Linked DNA regions of Homo sapiens: all the other regions are linked to region 1. Evidence: fine-mapped expression QTL. A gene starts in region 1. Each other region holds a variant in brackets. All regions are shown on one strand. Distances are between the middles of the regions.

What was found. PIP is the estimated chance that this variant, and not a neighbour inherited with it, causes the effect.
Region 2: its variant is the best candidate, but not a certain one, in a credible set for the expression of COG2 in whole blood (TOPMed, PIP 0.55).
Region 3: its variant is the best candidate, but not a certain one, in a credible set for the expression of COG2 in thyroid (GTEx, PIP 0.79).
Region 4: its variant is the best candidate, but not a certain one, in a credible set for the expression of COG2 in monocytes (BLUEPRINT, PIP 0.85).

What each region holds. Positions count from the first base shown.
Region 1 is chr1:230,640,232-230,644,444 of GRCh38, forward strand. It overlaps COG2 (component of oligomeric golgi complex 2), which reads left to right and starts at 2,250. Exons shown (of 18, transcript NM_007357.3): 1 at 2,250-2,447. The coding sequence starts at 2,376. LOC124904545 (a long non-coding RNA gene) reads right to left here and starts at 466. Exons shown (of 2, transcript XR_007066935.1): 1 at 63-466. RefSeq lists silencers at 2,044-2,183, 3,797-3,916 and an enhancer at 2,274-2,493.
Region 2 is chr1:230,692,008-230,696,219 of GRCh38, forward strand. It overlaps COG2 (component of oligomeric golgi complex 2), which reads left to right. Exons shown (of 18, transcript NM_007357.3): 18 at 1,285-1,975. The coding sequence ends at 1,386. Among named protein-coding and RNA genes, the nearest start is that of AGT, 20 kb to the right of the region's middle. The variant CA/C (reference allele first, on the strand shown) is at 1,974.
Region 3 is chr1:230,682,702-230,686,701 of GRCh38, forward strand. It overlaps COG2 (component of oligomeric golgi complex 2), which reads left to right. Exons shown (of 18, transcript NM_007357.3): 11 at 873-934; 12 at 2,384-2,535. Among named protein-coding and RNA genes, the nearest start is that of AGT, 29 kb to the right of the region's middle. The variant A/G (reference allele first, on the strand shown) is at 1,574.
Region 4 is chr1:230,602,341-230,606,558 of GRCh38, forward strand. LOC107985357 (a long non-coding RNA gene) reads right to left here and starts at 2,493. Exons shown (of 4, transcript XR_007066934.1): 1 at 2,324-2,493. LOC124904544 (a long non-coding RNA gene) reads left to right here. Exons shown (of 3, transcript XR_007066932.1): 3 at 3,841-4,218. The variant G/A (reference allele first, on the strand shown) is at 2,623.

The DNA of each region.
Region 1 (4,213 bases):
CCCAGGAACAATGTCAGAAGGGAATTACAGTGAAGAAAGAAAGAGTTCAAGTTCCAGCTTACCTAGACTTCCTGCAGAGCCTCGAAAGAGAAGGCAGGGTTGCAGACATCTTTGTTTCATCTGTCCAGCATCCTCTCCCGTGCCTTGGTACTGGGCTTTGAAGCCAGGCTGCCTGGGTTTGCAACTTGCCACTTATTAACAGTGTGACCTTGGGATAAAGGCCCACCTTTCAGAGCCACTATAGATTGGTTATTGGAATTGCTGGTTTTGTTAGGTGTTACAAAATGTCAGGGTTTTTTTTTCTTCTTTTGATGCGTAAACTGAGGTATTAGGGGATAGGAAATGATATGGTGTTTAGAATTTGCTTTAAAACATATTCCAATAAAAGGGCTGGACTCAGTGGTTCATGCCTGTAAACCTAGCACTTTGGGAGGCTGAGGCGGGTGGATCATCTGAGGTCAGGGGTTCGAGACCAGCCTGACCAACAGGGAGAAACACCATCTCTACTAAAAGTACAAAATTAGCCAGGCATGGTGGCACATGCCTGTAATCCCAGCTACTCGGGAGGCTGAGGCAGGAGAATCGCTTGAACCTGGGAGGTGGAGGTTGCGGTAAGCAGAGATCATGCCATTGCACTCCAGCATGTGTAACAACAGTGAAACTCCGTCTCAAAAAAATATATATATATATGTATATATATATATATATAAAACAACAAAAAAAGAAGGTCTCGATGCGGTGGGTGGGGAAGGGCAGAGGAGACAGGTTGATGATGGTTGAAGCGAGGTGCTAAGTACATAGGGTGGGGTTCTTGTGCTCTCCACACTTCTGTGTACTTGAAAATTTTCATAACAAGAGAAAACAAAAAATTAAACAGAAAATGAGGTTTTCATTTCCTCCAGCAAAACAAACATAACAGGGACTTAGGATGTACTTTTCCCAATCGCTCCTCTGGCAGAATATTTTGATCCTCCAGCTAGCTTCCGGCTCTTATCCTGTTCATCTGTTCTGTAGATACTGGCAGGAAATAGGCTCTTCAACAGGGCCTGCTAGGTCCAGTGCTAGGGAGTAGAGCGTTTTGGATTCTACGCCTACATTTTTTTTTAAGTGACCAGTTTTCTAGTTGAGATACTTGAAATACAAAGTCTCATGGTGAGGTCTTACCCTCTGCTGTCCCATTCCTTTTTACAGGCCATCATGGCGTTAATCTTATCTCCAAGGAGAAAAATTGGGAAGAGAGGCCTAGATTCCTCAACAGAAGCGGGAAGGAAAGGTTTGCAGAATGAAGAGTGTGAAGTGAGGTTTGTGGTTTGAATCATCCGAATGTCAAGGAGAAAAGAAGAAAAATGAATCATCATCATTTGACCACGGTATTTACAGCTAGCGGAAGGGACAAGAGGAGAAAAAAGCAAGGGAGGAGATAAAGGAAGAACGTCTCAGAATAAAATTGGGGTGGGTGGGGGGAGGAGGAGGAAGACAGTCTAAGAAATTGGTTTGGTTGCACCAGTACTGGCCACAACACAAAAATTTGTCCATTCCTGGTTGAAATTAAAAATAAATGTGCATGCACATGTATTTGTCTGCTGTGTTTAATCAGATAGCGAGGCACTCCTTTAAGCACCTTGAAGACCCAAAGTTGCGCTCAGAGGCTGCCCACCTGGAACGGAGACCGAGGTTGAGCAGGGAGCTACTCAGAGGACCCAAAGCCGCCTAGCTGACCACCTTCTTCCCTATGAGTTCCCAGTAACGGAGCCCAGTGGAGGAGACGCTACACTTCTCTGTGGGGACAGAGGCTAAGGGCGGGGGTCTCCATAGAGGCGTTAGCGCCCACCAGCGGCAGTGACCGCGCACAGGGAGGTGAAGAATGCGACCACGGTGATACGTCCAACCTGGAAAACGGGCCTGAGAACCAAAGGGCCAACTTCTGGCCATGCATAACGAAGCAGAGCAGTCTCAGGGTAGAAGGCACTGGAAAAGCGTTGTAGGACAATTTTTCCCAGTAGAAACGGTGGGGGTGGGAGGGAGACCCGCTCACCCCTTTTGACCCACCCCTGCAGCTCAGCCACGCCTCCTAGGGAGGTGGGCAGCCTTGCAGGAGCCCGCGCGAGGCTGCAGTACCGCCCTCCGCCACATGAGGGCAGCACGGCCTACCCGTGCAGCAGCGGCGGCCCCCGCGCCCCTCTTGGCCAGAGCCAGGCGCAGGCCGGCTTGCGGTGCCGTCGTTCATTGGCCGCGGCGCGGGCGCTGCCATGTTGGCGGAAGCGGACCCCCCTGTGCCGTGGAAACTGGCGGTGGCCGCGGCCGCCGAGTCGGTCTGCGCAGCCTCCTGCGTTTTCTCGCTTGGATCTTGGCACTGAGAGGCGGTGGCCGGCGGGATGGAGAAAAGTAGGATGAACCTGCCCAAGGGGCCGGACACGCTCTGCTTCGACAAGGACGAGTTCATGAAGGTGCGCGCGGCGTCCGCTCCCCGGAGCCGGGCCATGAGGGTGCCTCTGCCCTGTGCCCTCTGTGGCGGTCTCTTCGGTCGGCTGCTCCTGCCTGCGCACGCTCAGTGTCAGGTCCTCCGCCGAGACCTCGCTGCACTTCGCAATGAGTCTTTTGGCGTCAGGTTTGGCGGGTGCAGCCTGGAGAAAGCACTTCTGTAAAATCGTGCGTGTTACATGGAAAGGCCTGAAAGTTCTGGGCAAGTGGTTTTGAGCTGCATGTCAAAGCCACTGTTACCCGTTCCTGTTACCATGCAGTGCAGTCAGATTGCCAGTCCCCTTGTCGGAAAGAAGCTTGTGGACCGGGGCCTTGGAGCTCATTAAGTGTGTGTTGAATAAATCTCCAAGCCCACGTACTTTCCTAGGGACTCGGGTCGGAAAGAAAAAGAACTTAATCTGAAGTTTTGCTTAACATTCAGCTAAAGCTTCCAGAATGGGATATTTAGAAGCTTAGAACATTCTTACCGACTATTGCAGTACGACAAAGCAAACCATTACTCTTTAAAGAAGTTGCTCTACTTTTTACGTGATGCATTTGAAGAAGTTGGTAGTTGTAGGTCATAAACTTAGAGAAAAGAAATATAAACTGAAAACACTTCACTGATGATAAAGTTCATCAGGCACAGCCTTGAAAATGGCCAGGCTTTGAGTGAGAGCTGGGAGGAGCTTTGCTCCTACTTGGTGTATCCCTCTGGGTCTGCACTTAAGCCATTCAAAAAATGTTTCTATTTAATTTCCTGAGGACTAGGATTTTTGACACCTTTTAGTAGCTGCTTTCAGTGTTAAAAAGCGAAAAGTTTTAGCTGGTTAGTAGACATCTACAATTTTGAGCAAGTGAGTTGAAATCTTACTCTGCCTTTCTTGGTGACATAATGTTTTCTAGATTAATTAGCCTATCTCTTTTTGATAATATTTGCATTCAGATTACATCTCCAAAGCTGTTTTTTTTTAAAGTAGATCTGTATCTTCTCCAGTGTGACCATATCATTTTTCGTATGTAGGACTTATCTATACCCAGGAATAATGTACCTTATTCTTGTAAGTGATATTCCTATTAGACCACTGTACTAAAAGGTGTAACTTCATTAGGATGTCTCAAAGAATGTACAGAATCAACTCATTGATCCAGAAACCCTTCGTTTTGCCTACTGGCTAAGAGCTACCCTGAAATGAGGGTAGAAAGAAACAGCTAAGGGTACATGCTGGGGAGAGGTGCCCTGGAAGAGGAAAGGCCATACACGGAGATCAGGGGCCTTGTTGACGTCAAGAATCTCAGAGTACAGAATAATCTCAGTTTGTCCATCTCTTGACTTCTTAAGGCTCAACACCAGCATCTTCTCTGACTCACTAGCCCCACCACCTTTCCCACTCTGAGTTGACAGAATGCCTTTGGTAAATGCAGCTTCAGGAAGTGAAATCACAGAAATACAAGTTCTAAAATAGAACTTAGAGTGCAAACTGGGGTGGTGGCTGGAATGCCAGCAATTGCATATTTCGTGGCTCTGTGAATATGCGGTACATTTTGTAGTGCTTATAAAAGTGACAACATACATAGAAGAAAATACATAGAACAGCTGTTCTGTGTAAAATTTTGTTGATTTTTTAGGTGGAGCTTGAAGATAAAGGTTATTTGCAATTTGTGTTGCCTTAAACATATAAAACTACATATAAGTTGCACTTCCATGGCAGAAAGGATGGTTGGAACACTTGTCCAGGCTATATTTCTATGT
Region 2 (4,212 bases), 52 kb after region 1:
TTCCTATAAAACACAAATTTTAGAATCATGGCACGTAGTTGAATGGTAATGTGGATATTATCACTTAAGAGGTGATATGGATAAGGTGCAATGAATGTCTTTTCATTTTTCACTGAGGTGAAAATGAAATTTCACCATAAAATGAAATTTTATGATACTGTGAGGACAGTATCATAAAACCTCTAGATGTTCAGAAACTGGCCTTCTAAACTGTTAAAGCGTCGCACATAGTAGTAGGTCCTCAAGGGAGGCCTTTCCACAGGGAAAAAAAGTGAAATCATAAAGTTTCCACAAGAGGACACTTGGTGGTGTTTTGGAGAACTGATACAATGTTAATAGAAAAAGAAAAAAAAAAAAGCAGTCAAAACAAGACACTTGATTTTCTAGCTCACTAAGGAATTTCTTTTACACATCATGATCATCACTGAAAATTCAACTTTTTTCTGCTTTGAGATGAATTTAGAGATATATCCCGGTAAAAGTCAACTGCCATGTTTCTTTATTTGGCAAAAAAACCCAAAGACTTTTTACAAGCAAGAAAGTATGTTATAGAAACGTGAAGAGCCAATGAGCAAAAGAAAGGGAAGGAAGGAAGGAGAGTGGGATAGGGAACTAAAAGGAAAGAGAGGGGAAGGAAAAGGTGCTCCCGCAGTCTCGGTCCCCAGAACAAACCACAAAATGCTGACAGAGACTTGGTGTGTATCTTCCCGGATCTTTCTCTGTGCGTGTGTGTGGTGCGTGTGTGTGTGTGCGTGTATGGATGTATACGTGTGTGTGTGTTGTTATTGTCGTTTTTAAACAAAAGTGGGAACGTAGTGTGCCATGTCTCGGTGACCAAAATAATCCACGGTAGTTGCTTTGCCAAACAAAGTGTTTTCAACTCATCTGATTCTAAAAGGTTTTTGGCAATATGTTAAGAAACTAAGAGCACAGACCAGTACTTTTTTGAAAATTCTCTACTTAAAAGTTCACTTTTTTATTTCCTCTAGTGTGGATTTTCTTTTCTAGAATGTTTTTAGGCCCACAAAAGAGGCTTTTATTCTGTCTGATTTGATGAACTGAGATAAATTAACATACTGGCTTCTTAGAATGCTAAGTGTTTGACCCCAAAATCCTCACATTTTACAACAAGTAAATCCTTTGCTCTAGAGGAAAAAATATCCTACAAGTCTTCAGGGAACTGTCTTCTGGTTTAGTAGAGGATGAAGATTTTCTTTCTTTTTTTTCCCCCCCCATATTCAGCTTGAATTGCAGTAACATAATTCATTCTCATGGCCTTTGCAGATACAAAAGTTGGGACTACAAGCAAGTGACATAAAAAGCTTCTCAGCTCTCGCAGAGCTTGTTGCTGCTGCCAAGGACCAGGCAACAGCAGAGCAGCCTTAAGCATCTTGGAAGATCCCGAGGTTAGATTCTTAAGCAAGAGAAGAGTTGGACTTCCAGGCTGAAGGGGAGAAAGTGACTCTGTTCTCTTAGCAACCGTCTGTAGCAAAGAAGTGCTTCCAGCATCACTCCAGCAACACGCCCATGCGTCTTCTCTCAGCGTATTTGGGTCTTCTTTGCCCAAAAGAACACAAAAGCCTTTTTCCATTGTATGGAAGATAGTTTTTAAGACATTTGAAACTTTCTACTATAGTTTACAGAACAAATTATTTTATTTTTATTGTAAATCTTAGTGTGGAAGAGCTGATTTCTAAAATATGATTAAAGTAAATATATACCTATGAATATCAAGAGTCGTCTCCCTGAGCCTGTAGTTGGAAGTGACGACTGTAATGGAATGATGTCTTGTATAGAAATGCCCTTCTCTGAAATAAAGAGAACTCCTGGGCTTTCTAAAGAGGCTGCGGGAAGCCATCCTCCACTCCCACTGTGTGTGAGAGCAGTGCTTCTGATCCTGCTGTCACCCCGACCTCTGGCAGGAGCCGGCGCCAGTAGGAAAGACCTCCTTCCTAAATAAAAGAAGTGTCTCC[CA/C]TGAGTGTGTGCTCGTTTTCTTTGGGAATTCCCCACCAGGGAAGCACTCCTCGTCACTCATGCCCTGTAATGACACACATTCCCTTCCAGGCGGATGCTCCTCTTAGCACTGATGGGAAGGGTCCTGGCCAGCACTGACCCTTTCTTTCGATGTGTGGAAGTTCCTTTCCTTGGAGGGGTAACACCTTCCTTAGGAGTCGGCAGGCCCTTCCTGGCAAGCTGATGTGGGTAGAAGGAAAGAAGACTGCCCTGAGAAGAAGAGATGGAAGCACTGGGGAGAGGCACTCCAAGACTGGTTGGTTGGTTGAACTCACATAGGCAGCATGGAGTGCCGTGCAGCCCCCGCCTAGCTGTGGCTTGGGCCCTCCCAGCCTGATGAGGAGCTGGAAGCAGCTATGTTGAGTCCTTAGTCTTGCATTCCCGTGCATCTCAGTCCCTTCTTTGTTCAAAGGTTAGCCCTGGGGAGAGGAAGTAAATGGTAGGGAATGAGAGCAGGTCCTGTAGTTAGCAGGCTTGAGTTTTTTAGCACAGACCGGGATGAGGAGGGCTAGAGAAGTCAGAGGAAACCCCAGTGGTGAAAGCACCAAGAGCCAGGTGTGTGTGGAGCCCCAGGGGCTTCCACGCAGCCCCCAGCCTGCCACAAAGAGGGGCTTGCACTTTCTGTTTGCAGGTAACAGACACTGGACAGTGGCGCCCTGTGTAGAGAGCATCTGCTTTGGGCTTAGGACTGGAGGCCCTGCCCCTGGAGGGGGAAGTGTCCAGTTCTGGAGTTCACTGTTGGGAAATTTGGTCAGTGACAGAACCATGGGAGAGAGACAGAGAAGGGATTTCTTCTCAGGGCTTGACCTCCCTGGTGTGGGAGCCGGCTCACCTGGCAGGGCTGTGGTAGGGTGGGGTACCATCAGCAGGGGGCCAGCGGAAGGAAAGACGGGCGTGCAGTGGGGGAGAGAGAATGAACTGGAACCCGTGGGGATAAATGGAGCCCGCATCTGGCTCTTGCTGCCTCCTGGTCTCCCCATTTCAGTGATGGGGTGATGTGCAGAGGAAGCTGCACATGCACTTGGCCCAGCATTCAGGGAAGCTGAAGGAAGAGACCCAGCAGGAGCTGGAGGAGTTGCATGCCTGCCTCCCGCCCCAAGCCAGCAGGAGAGCCTGCAGCTCTGAGTCAATATGCAAGAGCTGCAGTGGAGCCTGGGCTGCAGCAGCCTGCTGCATATCAGCATGCAGCCACCCCACCCCACCTCCTGCAGCTGTTTCCTGTGACCAAGGCCAACCTCAAACCATCCCAGGAAGGGAGTCGTGGGGAACACAGGTCCAGCCTCGCTAAGCCGATCCAGTGCAAAGCTACCTCAGTAGCCACATGGAGGTAAACTACTTCCTCCACTCCAGCCTTCATCAATAGACCCCAAATGTTTGTCCCCATCTCCCTGAGTGCTCTGCCCTTCTCATTTATTTTAGAACATAGGAGGAGAGGGTTATGACTTAACAGCCCATCCAACTCCAGCATTATTATTCTCATTTTACAGATGAGGAAACGGACAGCTTAGGTCATCAAGATAACTAATAAGTAGGGTTGAAACCCAAGCAAGATAATTCCAGAGCCTGGTTTACTAATTGTTACATAATTCTTCATCCCTAAAATCAGCACTACAACAAAGTTGACAGTCAAGAATTGGAACGCAAGTTGTTGATTTCTTTGACCCTGTCAAGCCCCAGGCTGGCCCTGGACTCAGCACACTGCCTTTCTCAGTGACAGCCCTGATGCCATAACACCTATTTCTAAGAAACACGCCTGTAATCCCAGCACTTTGGGAGGCCGAGGTGGGCGGATCACCTGAGGTCAGGAGTTCGAGACCAGCCTGGCCAACGTGGTGGAACCCCGTCTCTACTAAAAATAAAAAATTAGCTGGTCATGGCAGCACGTGCCTGTAGTCCCAGCTACTCAGGAGGCTGAGGCGGGAGAATCACTTGAACCTGGGAGGCAGAGGTTGCAGTGAGCCAAGATCATGCCACTGCACCCTACCCTGGGCAACAGTGTGAGACTCCGTCTCAAAGAAAAAAAGAAAAAGGAAAGAGACAAGAATCTTTAAGTAAAGTGAAAGGCTTCAGAGCCTTTGTCCATGGTTCCCCCAGAACATCTCTCCTTTCTTTGGTATGTGTTTTATTTGCTTTGCTTTGGAGAAATTACTATTGAATAAAGCTTAAAGATGAAATAATACTTACATACTGTAAACCTGT
Region 3 (4,000 bases), 42 kb after region 1:
TTAATATCAGTTGGATAAATTGATATTGAGCATGCATCAGAATTCATTACTAGTAAGGCAATTAGCAGGTGACAAAAGAGCATGCTAGTAAAGAGATATATGAAATTGCAAGAGTTATATAGTTAGAAAACAATGCCTGCAAAAGCAGCTAGCTTAAAAAAACTATATAACACATTTGCCTTTCACAAAGTCATAAAAACATGTCCATATCCATTATTAGAACAGAAGTCTGTGACAGGATGAGCTGAGGTGCCAGGTGAGCCAGCTGTCATCAGGGAAAAAAGAACGCACATCTAGGAAGCGCTGGTACAGACAGCCGTAGAACCCGAAGGGCAAGTACCATGGACGTGGGAGAGGGTCACAGATTAGAAGAGCACCAAGCAGTGAGTTCTAGTTTTAACTGGCCACTTCCTGTGATTTTTCTCAAGCTGCCAACACAGGTACAGAATGCAGCTTTCTTAGCTTGGGGACGTTTACCTTCCTGTGATGGTGTTAAGATAGATGGGTTGGAGGAACCAAAGTTTTATGGCCTTGAAGTGAATAGAGGATCATAATCAGGTGCTGCTCACCAGCAACAACTTCTTGATGGAGACTTAACTGGCAGTTTGTTTAATTTGAGAAACATGGGGTAAGTTATGATTCAGACCAGCTGCAAATAACAGAGAACCCTTATATAACAGTGGCTTAGTCACGATTTCTTGTTCAGTTAAAAAAAAAAAAAAAAAAAAGCCTGGGAGAATAGGCATTCCGAGGCTGGACTTACCAGTGAGTGACAGAGGAAGTTCCTGTTACTTAGGAAAAACAGAGAATGGATAGGGAAAGGCATCTGTCAGAGTCATAAACATTAATTCTTCTTCTTGTTTTTATCTCAGATTTAGAGAAATAGCGGGATCCTTAGAAGCAGCACTTACAGATGTCCTGGAAGATGCCCCAGGTAACTCCCTTAAAGTGATAAGTGGCATGGTATCCTAAATGAGTTCATTCAGTTCACCAAGTCATCTGGATTGCAGTATTCTGAGCGTACTTTTACTGTTTTTTTTTTTTAATCATACAGTAAGTTGGACCTTAAAAATCACTTAGTTTGACTTCTTTTTTTTGCTTTTTTTTTGAGATGGAGTCTCGCTGTGTTGCCCAGGCTGGAGTGCAATGGCATGATCTTGGCTCACTGCAGCCCCCGCCTCCCAGGTTCAAGCTATTCTCCTGGCTTAGCCTCGAAAGTAGCTGGGATTACAGGTGTACACCACCACGCCTAGTTAATTTTTTTATTTTTAGCAGAGACAGGGTTTCACCATGTTGGCCAGGCTGGTCTCGAACTCTGACCTCAAGTGATTCACCCCCCCTTGGCCTTCCAGAGTGCTGGGATTACAGGCATGAGCCACCACACCCAGCCTGACTTCTTTTTTTAATAAGGTAAAAATAAACCAAATAGTTTTGGTGTATAGAGTTCTTGCTTTATAGAGATGAAAAATGAATAAGAATATAGGAAACAGACCTCATTTTCATTCCTGAATATAACTTGTCCAGGGGATATGGCCCCTTGGTGTGCTTATGTGAACAGCTGGTTTTTTTTAGC[A/G]AATTGGCTGTGATCTGCCTTCCTCCCAGGCTGAGGACTGGTCTGCATGGTAGAGGGTCAGGTGCTCCTGCGTCTCACTGAGAATGACTCACAGCTGGAGCATGCATCCTGGGCCTCCTGTGCCCTGGCCGCCCATCCTAGGATGTTGGGCAGGTAACAGTTGTAGGTATGTGGACTTACCAGTACATGTTGACATACCCTTTCAGCCTCATTAATTTTTGTATCATATATTTATTCCTAGTGACCACTGAAATACTGTGTGCTGATATCTAGGTTCCTCAACTTAAATTTCCACTCTCTTTTATACAGCTAAGTCTACTGTCATTTTGAATCAATTTTAGCCTCAGAGTTAGTTTTCATCTGTCTTTGCCAAAAATGGTCATATGTAGTTAACTTCTTCTATAAAAATAAGAAGTATGTTGAGATAGAGGAAGACTCTTGTGAAATAGGACAAATTTGAAACTGAAGTTTAAACCTCTGCAAGTGATTGCCACTCCAGCCCATGTTTGTCGATTTGGTATGAAGTACCTATTAAACGTTATTTCTGAATGCTATATGTATTTGATGTTTATCCAAACACCTGGGAGATAGTGTCATGTAAAATTGTGCGTGGCATGAAGGATGTGGTAGGGAACTTGGATTGTGGCCACTCGTCATCCCTGTGCCTCCAACAGCTTTGCTGACCACATGGTTTTCTTCAGAAGGCCATTTTCTTTACCTTTGAATCGTACATCGGAAGTCTCACATTAGACTATAGCCTAAAATTGCCTGAAATTCCTTAAATGTGTGTTGTTGTTGTTTTTTCTCTAGCTGAAAGTCCGTATTGCCTTTTGGCTTCTCATAGAACTTGGAGCAGCCTTAGGAGGTGTTGGTCAGATGAGATGTTCTTGCCATTACTGGTGCATCGCCTGTGGAGACTCACTCTGCAGATTTTGGCACGATACTCTGTGTTTGTCAATGAGGTAAGGGCTGGCTGTGGAGCTCATCCATAATCAATACTGATAAAAATTAAAGATATGTTAGGCTAACTCCCTAAGATTTTTGTAAATACCATGAGAGGTTAATTCAGAGGACCACAGTAGTCTGACTTCCCAAGATTGTCTCCAGCTCTGTGTCTGTGTTTCATTTTTACTCCTGCGAGCATTGCATTTAGGGGTGTCTATTATCACAAACTTATTTTGTTGAAAAGCACCACTCTGGCAAGTCCATTTTTTTCCTTCTCAAAACCAGAATCTTTGAACTGCCTCCAAATTTAAAAAAAGAAAAAGATGTTCATTTTAATTTCAAGGTGATTATGAAAATGATTAGAAATAAAAATATATGCATTTTAATACTTAATATTTGGAAGTTTACAAAATGATATTGTCATCAACATAAAAAGGTATTAAAATTCTTTTTTTGAATATCCTTTTCCCTTTTCAAATAATCAAATATATTAAATATCCACATGCTCTGATGACTTATTAATACCCTACAAAAACCCAGAAATTCTTGATCCACAAGGGCGTTGGTCCAGTCCTGTGCTGAGCACCAGCCCGGCGGGTCCTTGCTGGGACCTCGGATTGCAGTGCTGCCCTTTCTCTGGGGACAGCGTGAGTAACAGACACTCAGGTAAACCAGTCATCGCAGTGTGAGGAGTATGCAAAGGAGATGTGTTCTAAAAAATAAAAAAGACAACAGGGAGAAAACAGCACACTTTGAGTAAAATCTTTGTAATTTGGAGTAGGAAAGGATCCCAGTCATCCTCTTGCAGTGTATTTTAATGGAAAGAGTGTCAGCTTTGGAGCTAATGTCAAACGTTGGCTCTTTAACTTTTTAATTCTGTGGACCTGGAGAAATTAAGCTGAGTCTTCATCTGGAGAATGGGAAAACAGCTTCTATATGTGGCTGTTGTGAGGATTTATTTGGACTAAAGCTCCTGTCAGGTAATGGGAGTCTAGTGAAATCTAGTTTGTGTTTCCCTTTTGCCTTTCCTCCGCTCAGAAGGGTCTTAGTGGACCACCCTGGGCTGTCAGCTGTTTCTGAAGACCACTGTATGATTCCCCTGACAGAGTGGGGTTAGGACGATTATTCAATTAGGCTAAGCATGCGTTCTTGCTAGCCAGGAATTCTCCGTTTATCTCTAGTAGATCACTTTGCCCTGAATGTTCATTATCCCATTCTATCCCATTCTTTTCTTGATGCTAGCTTACTTCTCTTTGATTTTTTTCCCTTATAAACAATGTGACACAAAGAACACTTTGTTTTTTGTATTTGAAGGTTTGGATTTTGATATTTTACCCTTGTTAATTATAATTACAAATGTATTACGCTATGTTATTTGCCTAATATAATTGATTTTTTTAAAACCTGTGATGTCCCCAAAATTAATTTTATTGTGGTTTGGGCACTTTATTTTTCACGTTATTTTTATCACCAGAAATTAGA
Region 4 (4,218 bases), 38 kb before region 1:
ACACCCCAACCTCTTATATCTCTGCGCCCTGATCCCTTATTTCCACAGCCTGACCTCGTATCTCTGTGCCCTGACCCCTTTCCAGCTTTTCTGGAGGGTAAGAACCCCCAAACCCCTTCCCTCTCTGTCTCTACTCTCTCTTTTCTTTAGACTTGCCTCCTTCACTATAGGCAACCTTCCACCCTCCATTCCTCCTTCTTCTCCCTTAGCCTGTGTTCTTAAGAACTTAAAACCTCTTCAACTCTCACCTGACTTAAAACCTAAATGCCTTATTTTCTTCTGCAATGCTGCTTGACCCCAATACAAACTCGACAGTAGTTTCAAATAGCTGGAAAATGGCACTTTCAATTTTTCCATCCTACAAGATCTAAATAATTCTTGTCGTAAAATGGGCAAATGGTCTGAGGTGCCTGACATCCAGGCATTCTTTTACACATCAGTCCCTTCCTAGTCTCTGTGCCCAGTGCAACTCGTCCCAAATCTTCCTTCTTTCCCTCCCTCAGTCCCAACCCCAAGCATCACTGAGTCTTTCTAATCTTCCTTTTCTACAGACCCATCTGACCTCTCCCCTCCTCACCAGGCCGAGCTAGGTCCCAATTCTTCCTCAGCCTCTGCTCCTTCACCCTATAATCTTTTTATCACCTCCCCTCCTCACACCTGGTCCGGCTTACAGTTTCCTTCCATGACTAGCCCTCCCCCACCTGCCCAGCAATTTACTCTTAAAAAGGTGGCTGGAGCTAAAGGCATAGTCAAAGTTAATGCTCCTTTTTCTTTATCCCAAATCAGATAGCGTTTAGGCTCTTTTTCATCAAATATAAAAATCCAGCCCAGTTCATGGCTTGTTTGGTGGTAACCCTGAGAGGCTTTACAGCCCTAGACCCTAAAAGGTCAAAAGGCCATCTTATTCTCAATATACATTTTATTACCCAATCTGCTCCCGACATTAAATAAAACTCCAAAAATTAGAATCTGGCCCTCAAACCCCACAACAGGACTTAATTAACCTCACCTTCAAGGTGTACAATAATAGAAAAAAGTTGCAATTCCTTGCCTCCACTGTGAGACAAACCCCAGCCACATCTCCAGCACACAAGAACTTCCAAATGCCTGAACCACAGCAGCCAGGTGTTCCTCCAGAACCTCCTCCCCCAGGAGCTTGCTACAAGTGCCAGAAATCTGACCCCCAGGCCAAGGAATGTCTGCAGCCCAGGATTCCCCCTAAGCCATGTCCCATCTGTGCGGGACCCCACTGGAGATCAGACTGTTCAACTCACCTGGCAGCCACTCCCAGAGCCCTGAGAACTCTGGCCCAAGGCTCTCTGACTGACTCCTTCTCGGCTTAGCGACTGAAGAGTGACGCTGCCTCATCGCCTTGGAAACCCCCTGGACCATCACGGACGCCAAGCTTTGGGTAACTCTCACAGTGGAGGGTAAATCCATCCCCTGTTTAATCGAAACGGGGACTACCCACTCCACGTTGCCTTCTTTTCAAGGGCCTGTTTCCCTTGCCTCCATAACTGTTGTGGGTATTGACAGCCAGGCTTCTAAACCTCTGAAAACTCCCCAACTCTGGTGCCAACTTAGACAATGCTCTTTTAAGCACTCCTTTTTAGTTATCCCCACCTGCCCAGTTCCCTTATTAGGCCGAGACACTTACTAAATTATCTGCTTCCCTGACTATTCCTGGACTACAGCTGCATCTCATTGCCACCCTTCTCCCCAACCCAAAGCCTCCTTTGCGTCTTCCTCTCATATCCCCCCACCTTAACCACAAGTATAGGACATCTCTACTCCTTCCCTGGCAACCGATCACATGCCCATTACCATCCCACTAAACCTAATCACCCTTACCCCACTCAACGCCAATATCCCATCCCACCGCACGCTTTAAAAGGATTAAAGCCTGTTATCACTGACCTGCTACAGCATAGGCTTCTAAAACCTATAAACTCTCCTTACAATTCCCCCATTTTACCTGTCCAAAAACCCGACAAGTCTTACAGATTAGTTCAGGATCTGCGCCTTACCAACCAAATTGTTTTGCCTATCCACCCTGTGGTGCCCAACCTGTACACTCTTTTGTCCTCAATACCTTCCTCCACAACTCACTATTCTGTGCTTCATCTTAAAGATGCTTTTTTCACTATTCCCCTGCACCCCTCATCCCAGCCTCTCTTTGCTGTCACCTGGACTGACCCTGACACCCAACAGTCCCAGCAGCTTACCTGGGCTGTGCTGCCGCAAGGTTTCAGGGACAGCCCTCATTTACTTCAGCCAAGCTCTTTCTCATGATCTACTTTCTTTCCACCCCTCTGCTTCTCACCTTATTCAATATATTGATGACCTTCTTCTTTGTAGCCCCTCCTTTGAATCTTCTCAACAAGACACACTTCTGCTTCTTCAGCATTTATTCTCCAAAGGATATCAGGTATCCCCCTCCAAAGCTCAAATTTCTTCTCCATCTGTTACCTATCTCTGCATAATTCTCATAAAAACACACATGCTCTCCCTGCTGATCATGTCCAATTAATCTCCCAAACCTCAATCCCTTACAAAACAACAACTCCTTTCCTTCCTAGGCATGGTTAGTGCCGTCAGAATTCTTACACAAGAGCCAGGACC[G/A]CACCCTGTAGCCTTTCTGTCGAAACAACTTGACCTTACTGTTTTAGCCTAGCCCTCATGTCTGTGTGCAGCAGCTGCTGCTGCTTTAATAATTTTAGAGGCCCTAAAAATCACAAACAATGCTCAACTCACTCTCTACATTTCTCATAACTTCCAAAATCTATTTTCTTCCTCATACCTGACGCATATACTTTCTGTTCCCCAGCTCCTTCAGCTGTACTCACTCTTTGTTAAGTCCCACAATTACCATTGTTCCTGGCCTGGACTTCAATCCAGCCTCCCACAGTATTCCTGATACCACACCTGACCCTCATGATTGCATCTCTCTGATCCACCTGATGTTCATCCTATTTCCCCACATTTCCTTCTTCCCTGTTTCTCACCCTGATCACGCTTGATTTATTGATGGCAGTTCCACCAGGCCTAATCACCACACATCAGCAAAGGCAGGCTATGCTATAGTACAAGCCACTAGCCCGCCTCTTTGAACCTTTCATTTCCTTTCCATTGTAGAAATCTATCCTCAAGGAAATAACTTCTCAAGTGTTCCATCTGCTATTCTATCTGCTATTCTACTACTCCTCAAGGATTATTCAGGCCCCCTCCCTTCCCTACACATCAAGCTCAAGGTTTTGCCCCCACCCAGGACTGGCAAATTAGCTTCACTCAACATGCCCCAAGTCAGATAACTAAAATACCTCTTAGTCTAAGTAGACACTTTCACTAGATAAGTAGAGGCCTTTCCTACAGGGTCTGAGAAGGCCACCACAGTCATTTCTTCCCCTCTGTCAGACATAATTCCTCAGTTTAGGCTTCCCACCTCTATACAGTCTGATGACAGACCAGCCTTTACTAGTCAAATCACCCAAGCAGTTTCTCAGGCTCTTGGTATTCAGTGGAACCTTCATATCCCTTACCATCCTCAATCTTCAGGAAAGGTAGAATGGACTAATGGTCTTTTAAAGGTAAACCTCACCAAGCTCAGCCTCCAACTTAAAAAGGATTGGACAGTACTTTTACCTCTTGCTCTTCTCAGAATTAGAGCCTGTCCTTGAGATGCTACAGGGTACGGTCCATTTGAACTTTTATATGGACACACTTTCTTGCTTGGCCCCAACCTCATCCCAGACACCAGCCCTCTAGGTGACTATCTTCCAGTCCTCCAGCAGGCTAGACAGGAAATTCACCAGGCTGCTAATCTTCTCTTGCCTACTCCAGATCCCCAGCCATATGGAGACATCCTAGCTGGATGATCAGTTCTTGTTAAGAATCTGACCCCTCAAACTCTACAACCTCGATGGACCGGATGCTACCTCGTCTTCTATAGTACCCCGACTGCCGTCTGCCTGCAGGATCCTCCCCACTAGGTTCACCATTCCAGAATAAAGCTGTGTCCATCGGACAGCCAGCCTAATCCCTCCTCTTCCTCCTGGAAGCCGCAAGTACTCTCCCCTACTTCCCTTAAACTCACTCATATTTCTGAAGAGCAGTAATAACCCTTATGAGCCTAATACATCCCTTCATTCTATTAGGTCTGTTCGTCCTTACCCTACTTTTTGCAACAGGGCTTTACGAAGTCACCCCAACCACTTAGGC